Homo sapiens: one gene and its partners. The protein of the gene in region 1 interacts with the protein of each later gene in a biochemical or structural test. Each region holds a gene or a part of one and is shown in the gene's direction. Other genes may lie near its edges. The genes, in order: RGS12, GNAI3 and DGKZ.

Region 1 (3,649 bases):
GTTGGAAATAACGGTGTGGCGGTCACTGCTTTGCAGAGTGCATCCTTACCTTGATAGGAATCCTGAGGCCATCAGGCCAGGCGATTGAGGTTTGGCTGTCAGGTGACTTGCTCACAGTCACAGGGCATGTGAGTGCTGGGACCAAGACAGCCCTGGCGCTCCGTGTGGGATTTGGAGTGGCCTTCATAATGTGGCGTGATACACTATCTAAAAATAAACAGGTAGTAACGTGTTGTGTTTTATGGGTTCCTGCTGTAATCTCTTGAGGTTTAAGTGTTGCTGTTTACTTTGCCAAGTGGGCCTCCCTGTGTAGTTAGGTGAGTCTGATCCCATAGCCTCCCCAGTTAGAGCAGCAGAAGCTTCCAGGGGTCATGAGGCGGCCACAAGATGGGTCCGGACGTCGCCGTGGACAGGTCTGCAGAGTTTCGAAGGTGGCCGTGACCGTCCGCAGCGATCAGGGCCCCACCTGGACGCTGGCCTGTGCTGAGAGAAGGGGCCAGCAGGGATGCAGGAAGTGCCTGGAAGTTAGAAGAAGCAGCAGAGTTGGCACAGGGAGGGAGAGAGCAGAGGAGGCCCCTGGAGGGTGCCATGGTGTCAGGCAGCGAGCTTCACGTGACTCCGGATTCTTAGTGACGGGGACTTCAGGGCTTTACTTTGCACAAACTCAGGTGGAATCAGTCAGGATCCAGCCAGGAGACAGGAAACGCAGCAGTAATTTGAACAGGAAAAATTCAGTATACAGAATCGTTAACAAAGGAAAAGAAGGTTAGCTGCTGAAAGAGAAAAGAAAGGCTAAGGTCATCAGTGTGGAAAGGGGCTGAGTCTAGAAAAGTGGGCGTGGGAGGCTTAGATACCCAGAGTAGGGGCCTTATCTGACAGGACTGTGAGTCCATCGCAGCTGTGAGAGAGTGAAGCAGCTCCAGGTGAGGATTGGTGGCTGTCCCCAGTCCCCAGGAAAAACGATGTGGGACCCTCACATGCCAGTCCACCCCACTCCATCTGGGAGGCAGTGCCTGTGCCCATTGCTGAACATTGAGCCCCTGGGCAGGAGCCATGTGGTCTTCAAGGCCCAGTGCCAGGATCAGAAGCTGGGCACGGCAGGGTGGGTTTGGCGCTGAGAAGAAATGCCTTGGTGTCTGGCACAGTGCCCCGTTAGGCTACCCAGCGTCTGTATGCACCCTTCTTCAGCACCCCCAAGGGCATCTCACTCCCAGCTTCTGCTTTTGAGTCCGCCTTGGCTTGCCTGCACCCCAGGGCAGGGTTTTCTGTGGCTGTGGAGCAGCTCCGGCCTGGACAGCCACGTCAGCTCCTCCCCCCAGTGGACTGCAGGCATGTGGTGTCCAGCGCGCTCTGAGGCCCAGGCCTGGGCAGGGGCCCCTGCTGACGGTGTCCTTGGCTTAGGCACTCGCCCTTAGCCCTAGAACAATCTTCAGCATTCCCTCTACACAGTTATTACTAGTTCTATGAATGTTAAACGTTCCCTTTGAAATTACTGGCACCAGCCTTTCTTAATCTGTATGCAAAATAAGCTGACTATTAGAAGAAATATAATACTGCATCTAGTCACAAGTTGGTCTCTAAGGCCAATAGTTCTGTGTCCTAACTGCCACCAGATTCTCCATTGTTGTCCTTTGCCAACGCTTTTGTCACTGCCGCCTCCATCCTGCTGTCTGCAGGCTCAGCCCGGGTTTCCGCCCTCAGTGGCCACTTGCTCCTGTGAAAGCCTGGGGACCAGCGAGCCAGACCCCTTGTTGCTCGGCATTTCTACGTCTCCTTGGTGAGATGGAAAGCTCTAACCCCCTGCACACCGAGCCACGTGGTGACCTTGTGCCAGCTCATCCTTGTCAGCTTCTCCCTCCTCTGGGGAGGAGCAAGGAAGGGGAGCTGAGTTACTTGTAGACTCGCTGAGGGTCTGAAATTCTTGAAGTGGGTGAGATGATGTTTGGAAGTGGACTGCTTTCCCTTTTGTGTAGTTTGCTCTTTGTCTCTGCCTAATGTCTGTAGCCAGCACAAGCTGGTTCTCATGGAGATAAGCATTCAGGCCTGTGACTAACAAAAGGGGCTGATGTGAAAGAGAACCCAGGATCTCGAAATGCTTCTGTCATCAAAAATGATTGCCTTGTGTTTCATTTAAGGCAAGCGTGTTTAATTCTGTGTCTCTGCAAACTGACTCAAAGTTATATTAATTAATTAAATTAATTAATTAAAATACCTGGTTAAGTAGCAGCACCCAAATTCTTAAAATTTCCATACAATGGATTTTGGAAATTTTAAAAATGAAAATATGTTATTTGTGATATGTAAAGGATTGATTGGTGTAATTTTGAAATGAATGAATACATATTTTTAAATTCCTCAGTTTAATTTCTGGTATGAGAAACATCAGTAGCTGAAACCCACAAAAATAAAGACTCGCTGAGGTGCTCAGTCGTTTGTAGGTACTCCCAGGAGTCCTGAGACCACAGCACTTGAGGACTGCTGCCCGCAGAAGGTTGGATTTGCAGGAGTGAGTTCCTTCTCAACTGTTGCTTACTGAGATAAGACCATTAACAGAGAATGGAGAAATACCTTATGGGTGTACTGGAGTACCCGAGAGCTACATCTGAGTGAGATAGTGGTACCTGCATCACCTGAAGTACATCTGAAAATCGCGCTCATAAAAAAGGCAAAATACAGAAGCCTCAAGCCCGTGAGCAGCGCAGTCTGCTGTCCAGGGTGGCGCGTGCCCCTCGGTGGGAGGACAAGCCAGGGGCGAGCGGGAGGACGAGCAAGCACCAGGCTGGGGGGCCTCTCCCGGGAGGGGTGCCGTGGCGCCTCGCTCGTGTTGGTGCAGTTTTATTTCTTGCGGTGCAGTGTGTTGGTGGGTGCTCATCATCTCATTCTCCACCATTTGTTCATGACGACATACCCAAAGGTACAATCACAGACACAATGCGAACAGCACTGTAAGAGTCAGAGCCTTAGATGCTGCTGCTGCCTCTGCCCCGCTCCGCGCGGGGAGCTGCAGTTCAGAGTTCGCTTCCTTTCATGGACTTACTCTGTTTGCACAGGCTCTTGGATATTCTCTTCCTTTTCCTTCCCTTTATTGAAAATACATGTGACATACTGCTGTGAGTTACTTTTTTCTAAAACAAATTTCTCATGTACATAGTTATATATCAATTTTAAAAACTCTTCTTCATTGTAGTGGCCACGTGGTATTATGTCATATGCCTGTGCCATTTCTTACTGAATCAGTCCCCAGTTGATGGCAACCTTAGACTGTTTCTATATTTAATAATAAGCTGGATTGCAGTAAAAATTCTTAAAGTTCTATCTTTGTATATATGTGAGTTTTCTTTTGGGTAGGTTCCTAGATGTGGAATTGCTGTTTTTAAAAGTGTATGTGCATTTTAAAGTTTGCCAAATTGCTCACCAAAGAGGTTTTCTAGTTTATATTTTTGTCAGTAGTGTGTGTGTGTGTGTGTGTGTGAGAGAGAGAGAGAGAGAGAGAGAGAGAGAGAGAGAATGCCCCCTTTTTTATTGAAGGAGAATTTGTGTTATTTTGATGTACAGAAAACTCAACAGTGTTCATTTCACCCAGTTTATTGGCAGGTTCTGTGGCCTTTGCCTTTTCCAGCTTGGCAACGTGAGCCACAGATTTTGGTCC
Region 2 (3,649 bases), on another chromosome or scaffold:
AGTATTTTTGTTTGTTTGTTTTTTGAGGCGGAGTTTTGCTCTTGTCACCCAGGCTGGAGTGTAACGGTACGATTTTGGCTCACTGCAACCTCTGCCTCCTGGATTCAAGTGATTCTCCTACCTCAGCCTCCCAAGGAGCTGGGATTACAGGCGCCTGCCACCACGGCTGACTAATTTTTGTATTTTTAGTAGAGATGGGGTTTCGTCATGTTGGCCAGGTTGGTCTTGAATTCCTGACCTCAGGTGATCCACTTGCCTTGGCCTCCCCAAGTGCTGGGATTACAGGTGTGAGCCACTGTGCCCGGCTTCTACTCTAGTTTTTTATAGTTGGTTAGAGAGTGTGAATGGAAAAAAAATAGAGCTGAGTGTGGAATAGGTTCCTTTTTCACATCTGCTTAAGTGTGGAGGTGTGAAGTTTATTGTAAAGAGGGGCCTCTTCTGTTTTTTTTTTTGTTGTTGTTTTTTGTTTTTTTTGAGACAGAGTTTCACTCTTGTTGCCCAGGCTGGAGTGCAATGGTGTGACCTTGGCTCACCGCAACCTCTGCCTCCTGGGTTCAAGCGATTCTCCTGCCTCAGCCTCCCGAGTAGCTGGGATTATAGGCATGCACCACCATGCCCGCCTAATTTTTTTGTATTTTTAGTAGAGACGGGGGTTTCTCCATGTTGGTCAGGTTGGTCTGGAACTCCTGACTTCAGGTGATCCATCTGCCTTGGCTGCCCAAAGTATTGGGATTACAGGCGTGAGCCACCATGCCCAGCCAAGAGGCACCTCTTTATAGACCTTTAGAGAGGGTTTATTGTGGGGAAGCAAGAGCAGGTCAGTGGAAGAAATTAAGTGATAAGAAAAAAGTGTTTGCTCCTAAAAGAATATTTAAAGAGTCAGGACAGCAAAAAAAGTAGTAATAATTCCCTCTCTTTTGAAGTTTCTAAAATTAGAGTCATGGTTTTTTTCTGTTTTTTTTTTTTTTTAAAGTAGTGCTTAATAAGGTTATTTGAATACGTGCATGGGTATAGGTCAAATTTCAGAACCAGGGGATTATGAAGACTTCACATGTTAGATAAAGCACCATACCTTGCATATGTACAAGGACATGCTCACTGCTGAGTATGTTTGCCAATTTGTCTAATATTTCAACTTTTCTCATTCATTTGTTTAAAATTTTATCTTTGAAAAGAAAGGGAGGGGCATATAGATCTTAGCTAAGGTGTTTTTTTTGTTTTTTTTTTTTTTTTGAGATGGAGTTTTGCTCTGTCGCCCAGGCTAGAGTGCAATGGCACCATCTCAGCTCACTGCAACCTCCGCCTCCTGGGTTCAAGCAATTCTCCTGCCTCAAACTCCCGAGTAGCTGGGACTACAGGCACACGCCACCATGCCCAGCTAATTTTTGTATTTTTAGTGGAGATGGGGTTTCACCATGTTGGCCAGGATGGTCTCAATCTCTTGACCTTGTGATCCACCCGCCTCGGCCTCCCAAAATGCTGGGATTACAAGTGTGAGCCACCATGCCCGACCAGCTAAGGTGTCTTAGAGTTGAGCCTAGTCTACCGCCATGCCACCCTGAATGCGCCTGATCTCAGAAGCTAAATGAGAGTGGGTTGAGCCTAAATATTACTAGAAAGAATACAGGAAAGGATCATAAAGGAGGAAATATTACTAGGTAAAAACCATTAGAGCTGGAGACCCAGAGTTTGGCAAAAATAATTTGAGTGCACCATGGATGGTTTTGTTTTGCTAAGGTGGATGCACAAGTTCTGGTAATTCACAAGTCTTTGGAGTTTTAGGTTGTGAGTTCACCTGTGGTCTGAAATGACTTTTGCTTGTTAGTTTATTTGTCTTGATGACTACTTAAGATACAAATGATTGCTCCCCTTTCTCCTTTACTTTTTCTTTACACGTTATATACTTTTTAAATTTTTTATTTTTATAGTTATTTGGAATCTCTCAAGGTAGATAAATATTAGATGTGGATGGGAAAATCATCCCGTGAGACCTGTGTTTAATTTTAAACCAACAAGTAGGGATGGATAGAATAAAGGAAAACAATAAAAATCTCATAATCCATTTCTGTCCTCTCCCTCACATATTTTATGTTTAAAAACTATAACCACCTAGAAAACTATGGCTATGTCTGGGCCCAGTGGCTCACGCCTGTAATCCCAGCACTTTGGGAGGCTGAGGCGAGTGGATCACCTGAGGTCAGGTGTTCGAGACCAGCCTGGCCAACATGGCGAAACCCCTCTCTACTAAAAATAGAAAAATTAGCTGGGCATGGTGGCAGATGCCTGTAATCCCAGCTACTTGGGAGGCTGAGGCAGGAGAATCGCTAGAACCCAGGAGGCGGAGGTTACAAGGAGCCGAGATCACATCATTGCACTCCAGCCTGAGTGACAAGAGCGAAACTCCGTCTCAAAAAAAAAAAAAAAAAAAAAGAAAAGAAATAAAGAAAACCATGGCTATGACTCATGAAGTTATGGTTACTTTCTTTTCCTCCTGCTCCCTTCCTTTCCCTCTCTCAGAACATTATTATTATTCCTTATTCCTTTAGGGAAATCTAGGGACTGTTTGAATCTTTCCCTGAGGGATTTATTTCCCCCATTAGGCTTCTAGACCTTAAGTGCCTCCATCTCCTCTTCTTGTTCTACTGTCTGGGCTGAAGGCAAAGAAGAGAATACTTTTTTCTTAAACTTGATTAATGTTTTACTCCCTTTGAGGTGTTTAGACTTTACCTCTTATGTGCTAGTCTTTTTATTTCTATTTTTAGTGTAGGCTTCCTTTAATAGAACGGGAATGTTTTACATAATCCTGTCTCATAAACCAGTTTTTTTCTCTCAAAAATTATTAGCAATCTGGATGGAGATTTGTGGGCTGGCCAGAAATGATCTTTTCTGGGGATGGTGGTGTGTGGAGGAGTGGTGGGGAAGTAAAATCATTCCTCAGCTCAGTTCTGGACTTAAAACTGTAGTGAAATGAGAATAAGGAAAGACTTAATTATAAATTCTGTCATGCTGGCCTGTCAGAAAAGGTCTCTGTAACAACACCTCTTTTAACATAACATGTAATGTGTCTATATTTTAAAGAGACTGTCATCAAGTCTTAAAGAAATGGAGAGTCATCTGTCTCTTTCTTAACTGCTTTCTTCAGGATGATGCCCGGCAATTATTTGTTTTAGCTGGCAGTGCTGAAGAAGGAGTCATGACTCCAGAACTAGCAGGAGTGATTAAACGGTTATGGCGAGATGGTGGGGTACAAGCTTGCTTCAGCAGATCCAGGGAATATCAGCTCAATGATTCTGCTTCATAGTAAGTAATTTTTCTCTGTGAAACTATAACAGAGAATAACTTGGTGACACTACAGAAATTTTAGTCCCCACTTAAGGAAATGTTTAAGTAATAGACACTCTTAGACGTTTATAGGATACTTTATAAAAATTGTCTAAGTTTAGGATTATAGAGCCCTTGGTCATTTGTATGATTTGGAGAAAAAAGTTCCCTCTTGGAATGTAAATGGGAGACTTGGCACCACAAAATTAGTTCCATGGCATTTTATTATAAGCAAGTGAAGGAGGAGAGACATCTGTTGTGGCTGGGTTCTGAATCTGTTCCAACTCATAAGTTCCCTCTGTGTAAGGGCTTGGCACTGATAGCCAGC
Region 3 (3,649 bases), on another chromosome or scaffold:
CCCCAGCATCTCGCGGGTTAACAGCTTGCCTGTCTCTCCGCCCCCTTCCCCAGCTTGCTGACATTTTACAGAGAGAGGCGGGGGCGGTTGTGAAAGGGGGCAAGCTGGTTCTTGCTCCCCAACCCACACGGACACCCCACTGACACAGCCTGCCACCACCCACCCACCTCTGGAAGGCATCCCCTTGGGGGAGACCTTCCTTCCATCCTGAGGGCCCTGAAAGGGTGAGGGACAGGCTGCCAAAACCATCCCTGGTAGACCCAGGGAGCTCTAGGGGGCTGGTCTCCCTCAAGGGGTCTTTTGTAGGACACAGGATCTCCCTCTGTCACCCAGGCTGGAGTGCAGTGGCACAATCATAGCTCACTGTAATTTCAAACCCCTAGGCTCAAGCAATCCTTCCACCTCAGCCTCCCGAGTAGCTAGGACTATAGGTGGGGGCCCCCATACCGGGCTCATTTTTTCTTTCTTTCTTTCTTTTGTAGAGACGAGGTCCTGCTATGTTGCCCAGGTTGGTCTCGAACTCCTGGCCTTAAGTGATCCTCCCACCTTGGCCTCCTGAGTTGCTGAGATTACAGGCCTGAGCCACTGTGCCCAGCCTCTGGAGTCTTTTTAAGAAATGATTTTGAAATCTTTCTAAACACATTAAATATCTTGGCGTTAGAAAAGTGTGCAGAATAAGGTGACACCTACTGCCTAGCTTGGTTGGAGCTTAGCATTAGGCCATATTTGCTTTAGATAGAGATGGAGGCCCCTGTGTCTTACTCCCTGGAGGAAACCACAATTCTGATTTTGGTGTGTGTGATGTTCTTGTGCCTGTTTTTAAAATTGTCCTACATAGGTATTCATGCCTAGCAACATACAGTGCTGTTTCGTATGATTTTACTCTGGTTTAAATGGTATACCAGGCATATTCTGCATTTAGGTTTTTCCCTCAATATTGTTTTGGAGATTTAACCATCCTAAACATGAATTCTCACGGATCCATTTTAACCTCCACGTCCGATTCCATTGTGTAACAGCAGCTTATTTGCCCAGGCTCTGTTGACGGACACTTGGGTGGTGTGCAGTTTTTCGCTATTGCAAGCGATCCCTCTGTGTTCTCTCCACCAGTGCTTGCTCACAGGGTCTGTGTATTTTCAGCTTAGACAGATGTTGCCAAATTGTGCTCCGAAGTAGTTGTCCTAATTTTTAGGCCTCTGTGTTTATTTTTTTATTTTATTTTATTTTTTTGAGACAGAGTCTCACTCTCGCCCAGGCTAGAGTGCAGTGGTGCGATCTCGGCTCACTGCCAGCTCTGCCTCCCGGGTTCAGGCCATTCTCCTGCCTCAGCCTCCCAAGTAGCTGGGACTACAGGCGCCCGCCACCACGCCCGGCTAATTTTTTGTATTTTTAGTAGAGACGGGGTTTCGCCATGTTAGCCAGGATGGTCTCGATCTCCCGACCTCGTGATCCGCCCGCCTCAGCCTCCCAAAGTGCTGGGATTACAGGCATGAGCCACCGCGCCCGGCTATTTTCTTTCTTAAAACTTTCAGTAAACTGGGGAATTGTTTCCCAGGAACAAACACTTTCTCCTTCAAGCCTGCAACACTCCCTTGAGAGAGACGAGGGTGGGCATTAGCCCTATTTATCAGATCAGGAAACTGAGGCTGAGGCAGGTTAAAAGGCTTAGCTTGAGGTCATGTAGCTGGTCAGAGGCAGATCCTCTGGGCCTTTGAAGCTAAACCTACTGTGAAGGCCTTTGTCCCCTGTGTGAGTAGTGTGGAAGCCTGGAGAGTGGGGTGGGGCCCTGGGGGCTGATGGGGGAGGGAGCAACATGGTCAGAAAGTTGAGGGGGGAGGTGTTAAATTTTTTTTTTTTCTTTTTTTGAGATGGAGTTTTGCTCTTGTTGCCCAGGTTGGAGCGCAATGGCGCGGTCTCGGCTCACCGCAACCCCTGCCTCTGAGGTTCAAGCGATTCACCTGCCTCAGCCTCCCAAGTAGCTGGGATTACAGGCATGGGCCACCACACCCGGCTAATTTTGTATTTTTAGTAGAGATGGAGTTTCTCCATGTTGGTCAAGCTGGTCTCGAGCTCCTGACCTCAGGTGATCTGCCCGCCTCAGCCTCCCAAAGTGCTGGGATTACAGGCATGAGCCACCCGCCCGGCCAGGGTGTTAATATTGAATGAGGGGTGAGGGGGAAATGCTTCTCCCAGCAGATGGGGAATGGGAGCCCTCTGCAGACACAGGAGAAGACAAGGATGGGACGGTCACCAGAGAAGAGTGGGGGCCCGCGAGGGGTTTATAACAAAGGGGCCCCTTTGGGAGGCTAAGGGAGATATATTGGCATTCCCATCAGGGATCGGTTTCAGTGTTGCCTCTGAGACACCAGAGCTCAGCCCAGACCAGACTTGTCCACCCAGTGCAGCAGGAAGTTCTCGGGAGCTGGCCCACTCCTGGGGCTCTGTGCCCACCTGAAGCCTGTGCTGTCAGCGGGATCCATGAGGCTGAGTCCAGACCATGCGCTGTTCCCTCCACTCACTCTTCAAACCACACCCAGCACTTCTACACTCTGGGGATGCCATTAGAAGCAATGTGAGGCCCTGGGGCTCACAGCCTGTCCGGGGATGCAGATTTGCACATTAGTGCTGATTGCCCAGGGTCTGAGAGGAAAACCATGAGGGAGAATTCACTGAGTAGAGAGGGGAGTGGTATTCCAGGTAGGGAGACCACCGGATGCCACGTGGTGCCACGTGGAAAAGGGACCCGCGGTGTTTTGTTTGCCAGAAGCATCCAGGGTGGAGCCTGAGGGGTCGAGGGTATGTGCCATGGAACACACTACTGAGTTCAAACCCCAGCACTGCCACATGTTAGCTGGACGACTTCAGGCAAATGACTTAACCGCTTTGTCTCTCAGTTTCCTCATCTGCAATATGAGGATACGGGCCATGGGGATAAGAATACCAACTATTCTTAGGAGGATTCGTAGCTTAATATTTGTAAAAACACTTAGAGTAGTGTCTGGTGGAGTGAGTTATGTAAGTGTCAAATACAGCATTAAAAATATGAAAGAGCAGAGAGGAGGCTGGGAGGCCTGTTGCCTGCCAGCCCCAGGTCTTTGCATTTTGCTCAGCTGACAGTAGAGTCAGTAAAAGGTGATTGGGTGCTTTAGGATGAATTCTGATGGCAGCGGGAGTCTGGCTTGGAGGGAGGCACTAAAGGAATGGGTTGGTCATTTGTTGCGCAAACATCTCTTTGAGGCCTAGCAGGGGCTGAGTCAGGGACTCGGATGTGAAAGAAGAGACTGGGGGTATTTCACCAAGGAGCTCAGGCCAGCTTAGGATCCCCGCCTAGCCCCCAAGCCTCTGAGACAGCCCCTCCTCCCCTTTCCTTGCCCACCACCCTCCCCTTGTGACTTCATGTCACCAAACCGACTATCTAGTTTTCATGAGAAAGCCATGGAGAACATGGAGCGGGCGATAGCATCCAGCCCAGAAAGGGGCCTCCAGGTGTCACTCTTGGGGTCCTCTAGAGAGGAGAGGAAGGTGGCCACCCAAACCAAGGCTGTTGCCATCCCCTTGTACCCAACAAAGAGAAGTGGCCTGAGCCAGCTGGAGCCTGTGGTCAGCCGTTGCATGTGGTTACACAAGGTGGAAGAAGCCTTTCTCCTCC

The links.
Region 2: the proteins of RGS12 (region 1) and GNAI3 form a complex in vitro, tested with the Homo sapiens proteins (one study listed by BioGRID).
Region 3: the proteins of RGS12 (region 1) and DGKZ interact in a test that uses a peptide from one of them, tested with the Homo sapiens proteins (one large-scale study listed by IntAct).

What each region holds. Positions count from the first base shown.
Region 1 is NC_000004.12:3,320,402-3,324,050, forward strand, and holds part of RGS12 (regulator of G-protein signaling 12), read left to right. Parts: intron 1-3,523; exon of another isoform or gene 3,524-3,649. UniProt on the Homo sapiens protein: Regulates G protein-coupled receptor signaling cascades. Inhibits signal transduction by increasing the GTPase activity of G protein alpha subunits, thereby driving them into their inactive GDP-bound form.
Region 2 is NC_000001.11:109,576,062-109,579,710, forward strand, and holds part of GNAI3 (guanine nucleotide-binding protein G(i) subunit alpha-3), read left to right. Parts: intron 1-3,142; coding exon 3,143-3,300; intron 3,301-3,649. UniProt on the Homo sapiens protein: Heterotrimeric guanine nucleotide-binding proteins (G proteins) function as transducers downstream of G protein-coupled receptors (GPCRs) in numerous signaling cascades.
Region 3 is NC_000011.10:46,353,899-46,357,547, forward strand, and holds part of DGKZ (diacylglycerol kinase zeta), read left to right. Parts: intron 1-3,649. UniProt on the Homo sapiens protein: Diacylglycerol kinase that converts diacylglycerol/DAG into phosphatidic acid/phosphatidate/PA and regulates the respective levels of these two bioactive lipids.